Homo sapiens: one gene and its partner. The protein of the gene in region 2 interacts with the protein of the main gene of each other region in a pairwise test. Each region holds a gene or a part of one and is shown on either strand. Other genes may lie near its edges.

What was found. The genes of interacting proteins can lie anywhere in the genome.
Region 1: the proteins of OPRD1 (region 2) and SLC13A4 interact in binary tests that used the Homo sapiens proteins (3 or more experiments, as listed by UniProt).

Annotation. Positions count from the first base shown.
Region 1 is NC_000007.14:135,725,181-135,732,103, forward strand, and holds the start of SLC13A4 (solute carrier family 13 member 4), read right to left. Parts: upstream 3,007-6,923; 5' UTR 2,317-3,006; coding exon 2,218-2,316; intron 1-2,217. UniProt on the Homo sapiens protein: Sodium:sulfate symporter that mediates sulfate reabsorption in the high endothelial venules (HEV).
Region 2 is NC_000001.11:28,815,161-28,822,185, reverse strand, and holds part of OPRD1 (delta-type opioid receptor), read right to left. Parts: intron 1-7,025. UniProt on the Homo sapiens protein: G-protein coupled receptor that functions as a receptor for endogenous enkephalins and for a subset of other opioids.

The sequences.
Region 1 (6,923 bases), on a different chromosome or scaffold from region 2:
TTCGAAAGTGGCATTTCCCCATGTAGGACGTTTCCTAGTCAGCTACTCACTTAGGCGTGGAACTGCTCGTTTTCCACGCAGTTTGACCACCCCAGTGATATCCCACTCCAACTTCACGGGAAGGAGGTTGAAGTCTGTTATCTGTTATCATCAATGACTGGGGGCGCCTTTTAAAAAATTTAGCTTGGGCAGTTGAGATGCAACTTTTATCCCACTGGGGGCACTGAGGAAGGGCTTAGTTATGGATGCTGTCTCTTGTACCCTCTTCTTCTATAACATGATAAACAGTGTCTGGACCTCTAGTTTTAGAGAGTTGGGCAAGAAAAAGGGGGAAGGTCATTTTGACTCCTCCTAAAATGTAGCTGAGGCTTGTCGCTTAGAACCATCAAAACTGCAGGCCAGGAGCTCCTGCCCAGGTACTCCATCACTGCTCTCAACTCCAGTCCAGAGCAAGAAAATCCATTTGGAATTTTAAGGGTTAAATATCAGACTCTAAAAGTTTGATGCAGGCCAGGCACGGTGGCTCACACCTGTAATCTCAACACTTTGGGAGGATCACGTCAGACCATGAGTTTGAGACCAGCCTGGGCAACATAGTGAAACCCCCATTTCTACAAAAAAAATTTTTTTAAAAATTAGCTGCATGTGGTGGTACTTGCTTGCCTGTAGTCCCAGCTACTCCAGAGGCTGAGGCACGAGGATTGCTTAACCCCAGGAGCTCAAGGCTGCAGTGAGCTACGATTGTGCCACCGCACTCCGGACTGGGTGACAGAGTGAGACTCTGCGTCTACAAAAAAAAGTTTGATGAAAGGGGTGACGGATGGATGAAACTCTACCTGCTGGGCACCTAGTCTGTGCCTTCTGTGGGCAGTGGCCAAGGTCCCCAAAGATGGGGCTGCCTCAACCAGGAGATATGAGAGGTTCCTGATACTGCTTGGGAGAGGAGGCTAGTATGTCTCTCGGTAACAGTCCCTTATAGCAACCTACATGGAGAAAAAACAAAAACAAGAAAAGCCACAAAAAGAAAAAAAATCAGGCCCATTTGGACAAAGCAGAAAATTGACTAGGGTACAGTCCAGGAAGAATGTCAGCAGCAATCACTGTCTGCTAATCCCAGCCCAGTTTTAATCAGCGTCTCCCTGGCACTCTGGAGTATTTATTCTATGAAAGATTTAAGCCAGTTTGTTTTTAAGAAGAACCATCCTAATCCCCTCTGTTTAACTGTTTAACTTAATCTTGGTTACCAAGTTACTTAAGGAGCAGAGTGGAAGAATTGCTCCCCCTCCTACAAACGTGATTAACCTGTTTTAGCTTATTTTTCCTAAAGTCTCCAGGGCAGTGCCAGCTGGGGGAAGGGGACAAGCCACAGACAGGAGGAAGAGAACAGCGGAGGGAAGGGAAGGGAAGCAGGTGACCACCAGGAGGGTGTGACAGGCAAGCTGGATGCTGAGCCAGAGCTGAGGTTCCTCTGTTCTCACAAACCAGGTGAAGAATGAGGTCACGGGCTAGAGTTTGGGGGCTCTTATCTCTTTTTTATCGTGTCACTTTTTGTCTGTCCTTCAAGAGGACAGAGAAGAAAACACAGAAGACACAAATAATTCAAGGCCACGTGCATGGGAGCAGGGCAGCCTGCTAAGTTCTGCTTTCATTCCTTCCCTAAACATTCATTCCCTGAAGTTGATAGGCGCCTTCGGGATTAGAGCTTCAACTGTGGTCATCGAAGCCCACCAGGACACGACCACAGACCACGGATTGGCTCCACGGTTCTCTTCCTCCCCCAACCTTCTCCTCAGTGCCACTATTGGGAGCTCTTTCTGTGTCTCCAGGGGCTCTCAGATAACCAGGGTCCCAGGTGAACTCCCGACAAACACAGGTGCACCATGTCGTTTGCATGGGTGTCGCTGGCCCCCGCTGCTGGGGCAGGCTGGCCTGCTGCTTGGTGCAACACCCATCAGTCACTTCTGCCAAGGCCCCTACTCTGTCCTGACCCCGGTGGGGGCCATGGGGTTGGGGGAATGGGACTGGGATAGGAGATGAACATGACAGCTTTTAGGAAGAAGATATCTTGGTTTCCTCTGGAAAAATCCTTCCATTTCTTTAAACCCACCACAAGCCACTTTGAGGGACTGCCTGAGCGCCCCATGTTCCCCTACCGACCTCCCCTCTTTGCCCTCCCACTGACTCCCAGACCCCCGGTGGGCGCAGGTCGGTACTCACGCTGCTGGGGTGGAGGACGGGCAGAGGCAGCAGCAGGAGCGGGACGCAGACGACCAGCAGCAGCTTCCGGACTCGGAGCAGGCCCTGCAGCAGGCCCATCGCGCCTCTGTCCTCTCCAGCTCGTCCTTGGACCCCGCTCTGCCGGCGAAAGGCTTCCTGCCTGGGCACTGCTCTCTATCCAGAAAGACTTCTTAAACCTTTCTTGGCTTCCGAGAGTCCTCCTTCGTCTTGGGGGCAGAACGGGAGGGCAGTTATACCCTCGCTGTTTCTACAAGAGGCTGGGCTCCTGGCCTCCTGCTTTAGGTGGGATTGATGAGCATCGTTTTGTGACCAGCAAAAAGGAACTGGGAAAGGATGATAAACGGGGGCATAGTGGGCCTCCTCTCGGCTTGATTAGTAATAGAGTAACTTCATTCTAGGTGTCAGCAGAAACCCCCTTAATCCTTTAAGCCACACCTTTGCTGCTGCTGCTCGGCCTTGAAGAAATCATTTAAAAGCTTAAAAACATTAAAAACGCTCAGAGCACATTGTGCTCTCCATCAGTTTTCCTCCCTCGGATGACCTATTTTGGGGAGTACCTGTTTCATCTCCCACCTGGGCTCGCTGTTGGTAAGACTCTAGTAGCCCCTTTCCTTAAAACAAGCACCTGAGCTTGTCAGAGTTGCATGCGGACTTCAGGTGGGGCTGCTGGTCGCTCCCAGGACGTGGTACCTTAACTCTGTTCACATGTCTTTCCCTCAAATTGGTTCCCTACTTATAATTTGCCTTGAGCCTGGGCCTGCAAAGCAGAAAAGAAAAGTCCCCAAGACATTCCTTTTTATCAAAGGACAAAACTTGCTGGAGGCCCACCTTTAACTTTCATCCACCAATGGGAAGCCGGGACAGAGACAGTAGCTCCGCCCACTTCTCAAAGCCAATCAGCAAATTGAAAAGAATGAGTCAATTTCTCTCCCCGCGGCCGCTCTTGATTGGTCACAGCGGGGGCCTGCTGATTCCGCAGAACCTAGGCAGCCTGCTAAGCTTATTTTTCAGTTTCTCAAACTTCCTAGGGCTGGAGTGATGACCATCATCGTAAACATAATCTCACGTACCCAAGCACAGCTTTATTGTTTCGGATCATAGGACACAGAGCTTTCGCTGGGAGGGCCACCTGCTGATCTAGACCTTGGGAAGGGAATGTGCCTGGTGGCAGGGAGAAAATGCAACATTACTTCTGGAGAATTTGCCTCAGAGTGTACAAAGTTAAGCCTTTCAGACCTCCCTGCTGGCAAAGATCGTTTGCCTCAGCACCGAGGGGGGAATATAAAGGGTCTAGGCCAGCAGAGGGTATGAGCTCGTGAGAAAGACCCCAGATCTTTTGGGAAGTATAGCTGCCTCCCTGGCAAAGTCTAGATGCCAGTCTCATGCCCAGATGTCAGTGGTCTCTCTGGCTAAAGTAGGTGCTCAAATGCTTCTCTCTGGGGCTCTCCAAAAAGGAAACCGAAGACCTTCTTTGGCTGGTACGAAAGGAGGAGGTGGGAGGGCAGGGAAGAAGTTGACAAGTTCAGGGACAAGGTCTTAGCTGCAGTTGAACTCTGGAATTTCTCCTGTTTACAGATTGGAAGAAGTTGTTAGCTTCTTTTCTCAGAACGGACATGTGGATTTGGGGCAAGGAAGAAAAGCAAAAGCAAAAGCCCAAACATTCTGTAAGTAGTGGTTCTTGGCAACATTACCTTACCTTGATCTGGGAGATGCTGAGCAGAGTCAAAGGGTTATAAAACCCATGTTGTCTTGAATTCACAGAACACAGGAATGGCGTTCGAAGATCTGCAACTATACTACTTGGAAATGATCCCCAGGCTAAAGTGACCAGGGAAGTGACCCAAAAAACAAATTCTTCTTGACTTTTAAGGCAGGTGCAACTGTGGACAGCTGAGGTCCCCTTTGAAATTATCTTGCCATCGTAGGATGGGCTAGGATGACTCAACTCTTTAAATGCATGTTAAAGACTGGCTACTGTATTTACTACATTCTGGCCTCATTTTTTTTTGGTTATGATTTTGAAACTCAGAATGAACAATACCACGTGTGTGATGTTTTGGTCGCAAACATTAAAGACAGCGAATAATTATAAGCAGCTGTGGAAGTCAACATCCACTGTTAAACCCATGAACCATTCCAAATTCCTCGGTGAGATACTCTGAGATAACAAAGATTCCAGTGAGCAACTCAATCATGACATCTTTATTATACCATAGATGAATATTTGTTAAATAAAAATAGGTACAGCAAGTGTACAATAAGACCAGTAGTTCTCCTTCAGAACTCTACCCATTTTTCAGAGGAAGGAAACACTTTTCCAGAATACAATGCTCAAGAAATGTAAGCCAGATCCCGCTTGTATGAGGTATCTTAAGTAGTCAGACTCTCAAAAACAGAAAGCAGAATAATGGTGCCAAGAGCTGGGGCAGGCAGGGGGAAGGGGAAAAGAGGAGTTGTTCGGTGGGTATAGAACTTCAGAATTACAAGATGAGAAAGTTCCGGGGGTCTGTTTCACAACATGCATGGAGTTAACACTGCTGTACCATATGCTTAAAAATGGTTAAGATGGTACATTTTACCTGATGTGTTTTTTACCACAATAAAAAAAATAAGATTGAAATGGATTAGGAAAGTAAGGGGTGTTGTAAAAAGTCATTTAACAAGCATTTGATTTTAGACCATTGGACCTGCAGAAATACTTTGATTTGTTAGATTCAAGGTGAGGTGACAGAGCAATGAAGTCTGCAGCAGTTAAATGTCTGTTGATGTCTCTTGAGTGACATTGGAGATAGCTGTGAGGATGCCAACGATGGAGGAAACTTAGAAAGTTTTTAGATCCTGGGCCAGGCACGGTGGCTCACGCCTGTAATCCTAGCATTTTGGGAGGCTGAGGCAGGTGGACCACTTGAGGTCAGGAGTTTGAGACCAGCCTGGCCAACATGGTGAAACCCCATCTCTGCTAAAAATACAAAAAAATTAGCAGGGCATGGTGACGTGTGCCTGTGGTCCCAGCTACTTGGGAGGCTGAGGTGGGAGAATCGTTTGAACACTGTAGGCGGAGGTGCCACTGCACTCCAGCCTGGGTGACAGAGCGAGACTGTCCCAAAAACAAACAAACAAAAACAAAACAAAAAAACCCACAAAGTTTTTAGATCCTAAAATTTGTCAGCAGAAATGGTTACATAAGTCATGGGCAAGTTTCCACCACAAACATCACACTCCCATATTATTCTAATAGTAATTATAACCAAATGTGACCCCTTCGTGACTGTAGTTGTATAGAGTGTGGCACTAATGAGGCAAAATAGGAGACCCTGTTTGTCTGTCTAGTCTACATTTCTACTACTCCTTGGGCAAAGAATAGGGTTTTTTGGCTGCTGGTGGTGATCATAATATTTGATTCTGCATGTCAGTGAAATCATTGTCATAAAACTCTCTGTGGGTAAACAATGATCTGCATTCAGATTAAAATAGTTTTTAAGACTCTAGTTACTGAAAATGAGTCTTCATTTGTCTTTAAAAAGGTCATGTCCTTCTTTTTTCTATTTTTTTTTCAGTCATTGATTGCCACAAAAATTCAAGCCCCAATTTGTGTTTAATTTTTTTGTTGCTGGGTGAATGTTCCTGGGAACCATCTTCCCATTCATGGATTTCTTACTACTGGGAGCAGCCATCTACATAACATGGTGGTCAGGGACTACAAGGGTGGGCCTTTCCATCTGATGATTCTGAGTACAAGAAAGCTTTCAGATCCATTGTCAAGGGAGTGGAGCCTCGGGGCGGGATACAAGACTGACTATCAGGGTATTGCACAGTGTCTAGGGACTGAGGCCATTGCTAATCCACTCCCCATCTGACATCTAGGAAAAGTACAAACTGTGAAGATAGGCTACCATGTTTATCTGCCTCTGGCCGATCCCAACGCTGTCTGTACACTGACTTGTGTTTTACTTAGACAATGATACCCAGAGAAGACTGACAGACAGTGAGTGTTAGAGTGTGGGTCAGCAGAGATAGAGCAAAAGTCAAGCAGAAGAGTCTTGGAGATGCATCAAAAAACAGATACAGAGATATTTGGAATTGGGCCCAAATATACAGCAGCAGAGATACCAACTAAAATAAAAGAAAGAAAGACAGAGACAAGCAGAGTGACCATGTCAGAGAGAATATGTACATTTAGAAAAAGAAAGATTGAACAAAAAAAGCATATATCAGAATCTGCATTTGGAGGAGGTAAAAGAGCAGAATGGTCAGGGAATGAGAAAGAGAAACTGAGACTTACTAATCTTCTGAGCCTGAGAATATCAGGATGCAAAGCTGTGTTTTTCTCTGATGATGAATACCTTCTTCCAGTGTCCTAGTATTTCTCCAAAAAGATCATGCGGCTAGCACTGCTATGCAAAGCTTATTTGCTCAAAGATTTTGAAGGAGTCCAGACCTCATCATTATCAAATGACAACTGTTAAATACCCATTTCAGAATCAAATTTAGCCCAATAAATCCTCACTCATTCAAAGATCAGACTTGTTGCAGCTTTTGCTTGCTGAGCTCAGCTGTAAACTTAGGAGAAGACAGAAAGATCTCTGAGCTAATGAGGAATCCTTATTAGGACCCAGACGCTCGACCCCTAGCAGAGGACTTCATCTATTAACTCTTATTTAACATAGAATTATAACAAACCTGGC
Region 2 (7,025 bases):
CGAGGTCAGGAGGTAGAGACCAGCATGACCAACATGGAGAAACCCCATCTCTACTAAAAATACAAAGTTAGCCGGGCATGGTGGCGCATGCCCGTAATCCCAGCTACTCGGGAGGCTGAGGCAGGAGAATCGCTTGAACCCAGGAGGCGGAGGTTGTGGTGAGCCGAGATTGCGCCATTGCACTCCAGCCTGGGCAACAAGAGCAAAACTCCATCTCAAAAAAAAAAAAGAAAGAAATAATGAGATGTGCGCAAACACACATGTCTAAGAATGTTCACAGCATTATGTATGATTACTATTTTTTTGTTTTTAGAGACAGGGTCTTGCTATGTTGCCTGTGCTGATCTTGAATTCCTGGGCTCAAGTGATCCTCCCACCATGGCCTCCCAAAGTGCTGGAATTATGGGGGTGAGCCACCATGCCCGGGCAGCAGCAGCATTATTTAGATTGGCATAATATTGGAAATTATAAAAGTCACTGGAAAAAGAACACATTCATGCAATGTAGCCATCAAAAATCATGTTTTCAAACTAGAAGAGCACATGCTTAACATATAATGTTAAGTGAATAGGCATCTCACAAAATATTACATGCAATGCGATCATGACTTCGACATGTGACCCTGATTTCACTAAAATGGAAAAACAAAGCTGGGTGTGTCGGCTCATGACTGTAATCCCAGCACTTTCGGAGGCCAAGGTGGGAGGATCACTTGAGTCCAGGAGTTCAAGACCAGCTTGGGCAACATAAGGAGATCCCCATCTCAAAAATAAAAATAAGCTGGGCACGGTGGCTCATGCCTGTAATCCCAGAACTTTGGGAGGCCAAGGCAGGTGGATCACCTGAGGTCAAGAGAAGAGTTCAAGACCAGCCTGGCCAAGATGGTGACACCCCATCTCTACTAAAAATACAAAAATTAGCCGGGCATGGTGGCAGGTACCTGTAATCCCAGCTACTTGGGAGGCTGAGGGAGGAGAACTGCTTGAACCCGGGAGGCAGAGGTTGCAGTGAGCCGAGATTGTGCCATTGTGCTCCAGCCTGGATGACAAGAGCAAGACTCTGTCTCAAAAAAAATGAATAAATAAAAATAAATAAAATTGAGAAACAGAAAGAGAGACAGAAAAGAGATGGGAAGGAAACACACCAAAATGAAAAAGCTCTTTTCTCTGTGGTAGGATTATGGATAATGTCTGTCTCTGCTTAAATTTCTCCACATTTTCTGAAATAAGTTTGTTACCTTTTATTGTAGAAGAAAAAAAAATTTTTTTTTAAATATGGGGTCTCAGGCCAGATGCGGTGGCTCACACCTGTAATCCCAGCACTTTGGGAGGCCAGAGGCGGGCAGATCACCTGGGGTCAGGAGTTTGAGATATGGGATCTCGCTTTGTTGCCCAGGCTGGACTGCAGTGGTACAATCATAGCTCACTGTCACCTTGAGTTTCTGGGTTCAAGCCATCCTTCCACCCAAGCAGCTGGGACTACAGGTGCATGCCACCATGCTCAGCTAACTTTTTAATTTTTTTGTAGAGACAGGGTCTTGCCATATTGTTCGGGCTGGTCTCGAACTCCTGGACTCCAGTGATCCTCCTGCTTTGCCTCCCGAAGTGTTAGGATTACAGGCGTGAGTCACTGCACCCAGCTGAAAATTTATAATATTGAGTTGATAAAGTTTCCCTATACCACCCACTCAATAATTCTAGTTCCAGTTCACACCTGTAATCCCAGCACTTTGGGAGGCTGAGGCAGGTGGATCACTTGAGGCCAGGAGTTGGAGACCAGCCTGGCCATCATGGTGAAACCCCATCTCTACTAAAAATACAAAAATTAGCCTAGTATGTTGGCACACACCTGTAATCCCAGCTACTCAGGAGGTTGAGGCAAGAGAATTGCTTGAACCCAGAAGGCAGAGGTTGCAGTGAGCCAAGATTGCGTCACTGCACTCCAGCCTGGGCAACAGAGCGAGACTATCTCAAAAAAAAAAAAAAAAAAAAATCTAGTTCCTCTGAGGCTCGATAAATGTCAATCAAATGAATGCAAAGCAAGTGTGACTCCTCTTCTAAATAGTCATAATTACAGAAGATGTTTATTGACCACATACCAAATGCCTAGCTCTGTGCTGAAGTCCCTCATATCAGGCCTCGTGAACTCCTCATAACCACTCTGTGAGGGTCTATCACTACTCCCGTTTCACAGATGATAAAGCTGAGGCTCAGAGAGGGTGTGTATGTATTGTTCAAGCTCACTCTCTTAGTAAATGGCACCGCTGGGATGTAATTCCAGGTCAGTCTGGCTCCAATGCCCAGGCTCTCAACTGCTGCCACCCCATGCAGAGGCCTCAGAGATTTGCAGACAGCAATCTACCCTCTACCCCATCCCCATTCCTCGCTTCTCTACCTAGACGTCCCCAGCACTCGCCTCCATTCCGCCATGTCATGGACAGCAGCAGCAGATGGAAACATGGAGTGATTTTGGAGTCAGAGAGGCCTGGGTTGGAATCTCGACTCCACCCCTCTCTTGCTGTGAGAGGCACTCGCTCCCTCTGAGCCTTCTTGTCCCCATTTGCAAATGAGAACAGAAAGCCCCCATCACAGGGCTGTGGTGCAGCTTGCATACTTCAACCTCAATATGGCCTCTGGATCCAGAAGCCTCTGGCATGTGGCAGAAGCTTAGGAAGAGGCTTTTCAGTGTTCTCAGTGACTCCTATGGACCCACCGCAGTGCGTCTGTAAGTCACACACACTCCCCAGGGAATGAACCCAAGACCCAGGAAGAAGCAGGCTCCAGGCAAGACCAAGAGATGCAGCAGGAACAGCAGCCAGGGCTGCTGCTTGTTCTCTCTGCTCAGCCTCACCAGAAGTCATCTAGCCCAGCCTCCTCCTGCTGCCTCCTTCCTTTTTTTTTTGAAATGGGGTCTTGCTATGTTGTCCAGTCTGATCAACATCTTAGCCTCTTGAATAGCTGAGATTACAGGCATGCACCACCATGCACAGCTTCCTGCCTTCTTGTTAGGTCCAACAGCACTCCATTTCAGAAAGGGGACAGCTGAGCACAGGGTTTTAATGGCCCCATCCAAGGTCACATGGCTCTCTTTTCATTGCCCTGAGCCACCCTCTCTAGTCTCCCCACATTGAGCCCCTCCCCATCCAATCCACCCCTCACCCCCACACCAAATTCATTCTCTTGAAGACCATTCTGCACAGATTGCTCCAAAATCCCCCTCCCCATGGCCTGTGACCCAAAGCTTCCTCATTTCCCAGCACGCCAACCTTACCATGGGACCCCTGAGGACCTGTCCAGCCTCAGCTCCCACATCCAGACTAGAACCTCAGCACGGCCTCTGGCTCCTCACACAGTCATGCTGGGCCTGCCTCCAGGCCTCTCCTCAGCCCTCCCTCTCACCATCCCCATGAGAACACCTGCCTCCAATTACCTGGGGCTACTCTACCAGGTGTATCTCCTCAGGAATCATGGGTGGCTCCCGAGCCCAGCCAAGCTCAGCACCTAGCAGGTGCTTTTGACACTATGGTAAGAAGGACACCTGCTTACGACGCCTTTCCTGCTTTTGTCCCTGCAGCCTCTCCATCCTCACAGCCACCCTGGTCCCCAACACTCTCGTCTCAGCCTCGGTGAATTGGTGAATCATTGCTCCTGTGGTTCCCTCTATCTGGAATGCTCCACTCACACCTCTCCAGGGAGCCAACTGCTGCTCCCCTCCATGATGCACAGGCATCCCCTCCTCTGGCTGGGTCTGGAGACTCCCTGGACTCCCATAGTTCCAGGGAGCTGCACTTGTCTGTGGAGTTGCAACTAACCAGGGGGTGGCATGGGACATAGCTGTGTTAGGAGCCAGGGGGCGTATGGAGGTTTAAGCTGTGGGTCTGGGCAGTGAGAGCTGAGGCTGGACAGGCCTGGCATGGGTCAGCATCAGCAAATGCTTTACTGACTGAGTACACGTGCAGGCAATGCAGGACATGGGAAAGGGCCAAAGGTGGAAAACATAGACGACCAGGCCTCAACAGCCCACCTGCACTCTGCCCACCTGCAGCCACTGCAGGAAACCACAGCGCAGGGCATGCCAGGTGCTATGCTACAGCCTTTCCATGCTCGATCTCTTTGAGTCCTCCCAATAACCTGTCATATCGCCCCAATTTTTTAAATGATAAAATGAGCCAGGCGCAGCGGCTCACGCCTATAATCCCAGCACTTTGGGAGGCCAAGGCTGGCGGATCACTTGAGGTCAGGAGTTCGAGACCAGCCTGGCCAACATGGTGAAACCCCCCCCCCGCCCCGCCCATCTCTACTAAAAACACAAAAACTAGTTGGGCGTGGTGGCGAGCGCCTGTAATCCTAGCTACTGGGGAGGCTGAGGCACGAGAATCCCTTGAACCAGGGAGGCAGAGGTTGCAGTGAGCCGAGATCACACCACTGCACTCCAGCCTGGGCAACACAGTGAGACTCCATCCAAAAAAAAAGGGAAGTTAAGCTGTTTTTGCCCAAAGCCACACCTCTGGGACATGGATAGAGACCAGGCGCTCCCTGACCTCTAGTCACAACCTTTACCACTGCACTGTGTCATCTCACTGGAATCTCTCCTGGCCCAGAGGCCCTGGGTCCAGACCCCAAGAGAGGGGAGGGAGACAAGAAGCCAAGGGGCTTCCAAAAACAGGACACAGATTCAGTGCTACAAATTCTGCTAAGAAGACACTTCAGCATTTTCCCCAGCAGCTTCTGGAACCTCGGCAGGAGACTGAAGAAATAACCAGAACCCTTCATTCACCTATCCCGACCCTGCCACAGCCCACCTGCCTGGCCCAACTCCCCTCCCTGCTGGGTGCTGCAGTCACCTCAGATAGGAGGGAAAACGCGGTGCTTTGCCAACATCATCTCATCTAATCCTGAGGACAAAGGTACCTATGAGATAGTACTATTACCCACATCTTCCCGATGAAGACAGGTGCAGTGAGGCGATCCGGCTTGCTAAAGCTCTTAGTAAGTAGCAGAGCCAGCATTTGATACAAGGAGACAAATCAGAAGAGACATGGGCTGAGGTGAGATCAAGGGGCAGAGAAGCACACAGGCTGAAGGCGTCTCATGGAGGCTGGCCGGGGCTGGCAGGAGGCAGGGCATGCTGCGAGGGTACAAACCTGCTGAAACCTAGCTCGGGGCGCAGAGGAGGCAGGGAAACAGAGAAGGCTGTGGAACAGACAGGAGGCCAGGTAGGAAAGCACTGACTCCTCTTGCCCAGGTTCTGGGTCGGGCCACCCAGGATCTGGGCCAGGCGGGAGGAAGAGGGGGTCACCTGCCACAGGTGAGGGGCCTGCTAAGCCCATCACACCACACCTACCCAGTGGGCTGCCCATGGGAAGTCTCTGAGATGCCAGCCCTGCAGAGGACACTGACTCTGCCCGGAGGAAGGGGTTGTCCGGTGTCTGCTCTGAGGACCAGGGCATCCCCATGGCCAGCACGAGTCATCGTGCTGGCCAATCCCACATGCAGGAGGAGGGGGTGATGCTCTGCCTTGGGACCACCTGTCCACAGAAGTCCTGCTCACGCTTCATGGAAGCCTCATTCCCTCCAGCCACAGGCTGTTTGCTAAAAGCACAATTCCCAGAGGCCCCTCTCAGGCCCCCAGGATGAGACAGCTTCTCAGGTAGCTTCTTGGAGGGGAGAGAGGACAGAGTGTGGGGCCTGCAGGATGGAGGATGCTTCTGACCTGGAATTCTGAGATTCCTGGTTCTTACGTTCAGGCCCTCATCAGCATCCTGCTTCCCAGCCACAGCTCCTCCCTCAGCTTTTGACTCAGTTTCCCCTCCTCGTCCTTTAGCTCTGCAGAGGCTTCTCTGATCTCTCCGCCCAGCTGAGACCCTCCCCTGCCCCCATCATGGGCTCCCAAATCCCCCACATACTTTCACAGATAGCCCCTACCACAGCTACAAACTTCAGTTTATTGGATGACTGGCTGACGAATGTCTGTCTCCCACCAGACCCTAAGCTCCGGAAGGTCTGGAGCACGGTGTGGTTTTTTTCTTGGCATTTAGCACAGAGCATGTAGAATGTTGTAGAATGAGTTAATTCTTTTCAGTCCTTCACACAGAGCCCCTCATGTTCTCAAAGAGCTTAGGGTCTAAAAGGCTCAGATATCACACATTATGCCACTTAATCCTCACCCCCACCCTGGAGGCGCTGTTGGTGTTCCCACTTTAATGAGAAGAGCTTCAGACAGCTCGTCACTAGCCCGAGTACACAGCAAGTAAGTGGCTTTGAACTCAGATATGTCTGGTCCAGAGCCACAGCTCTGCCCACTACACCACCCGGCTTTCCTTCCCCAAGGGTCTCTGAATCTTCCCTTGCACACCTGCTCCCCACCCCCCACATGCTGCCTAAGCTCAGGACTGACAGGCAGAATTCACTCATTCAACCACTCATTCACTCAACCCAGCAGCCGGCTCATGTACTGGTTGTGGCAGGCCCTGCTTGGGCTGCCAGGAAACCGCAGATGGAGCGCAGCTCGAGGAGCCCTTCAGGGGAGCAGGGTCCCTTCTCCAGCCCGGGCTGCGCTCTCCCCACTGCCCTTGGGGTGTTTCCAGCAGAAGCCAAGACCCAGGCAGCTGCCCTGCCCTCAGACTCTCGTTCACTGTTCACTGGGGAAGGACTGAGCGCCAGCCCTTATCATTCAGCCTCCCCAAAGGACAGCAGCCTAAAATGCACAGGCTGAAAAACGCAGAGGAGCATAGTCCCCAGGTCTCTGCTCTCTGAGGACTCTAAGACAAGAGGAGGGACACAGCCGGGCACCATGGCTCCGCCCGTAATCCCAGCACTTTGGGAGGCCGAGGCGGGTGGACTGCTTGAGCTCAGAAGTTTGACACCAGCCTAGGCAACATGGCAAAACCCTGTCTCTGCAAAAAAAACTAAAGTTAGCATGGCGTGTGCCTGTAGTCCCAGCTACCCAGGAGCCTGAGGTGGGAGGATCGCATTAAGCCCAGGAGGTCGAGGTTGCAGTGAGCTGTGATTGCGACGCTCCAGCCT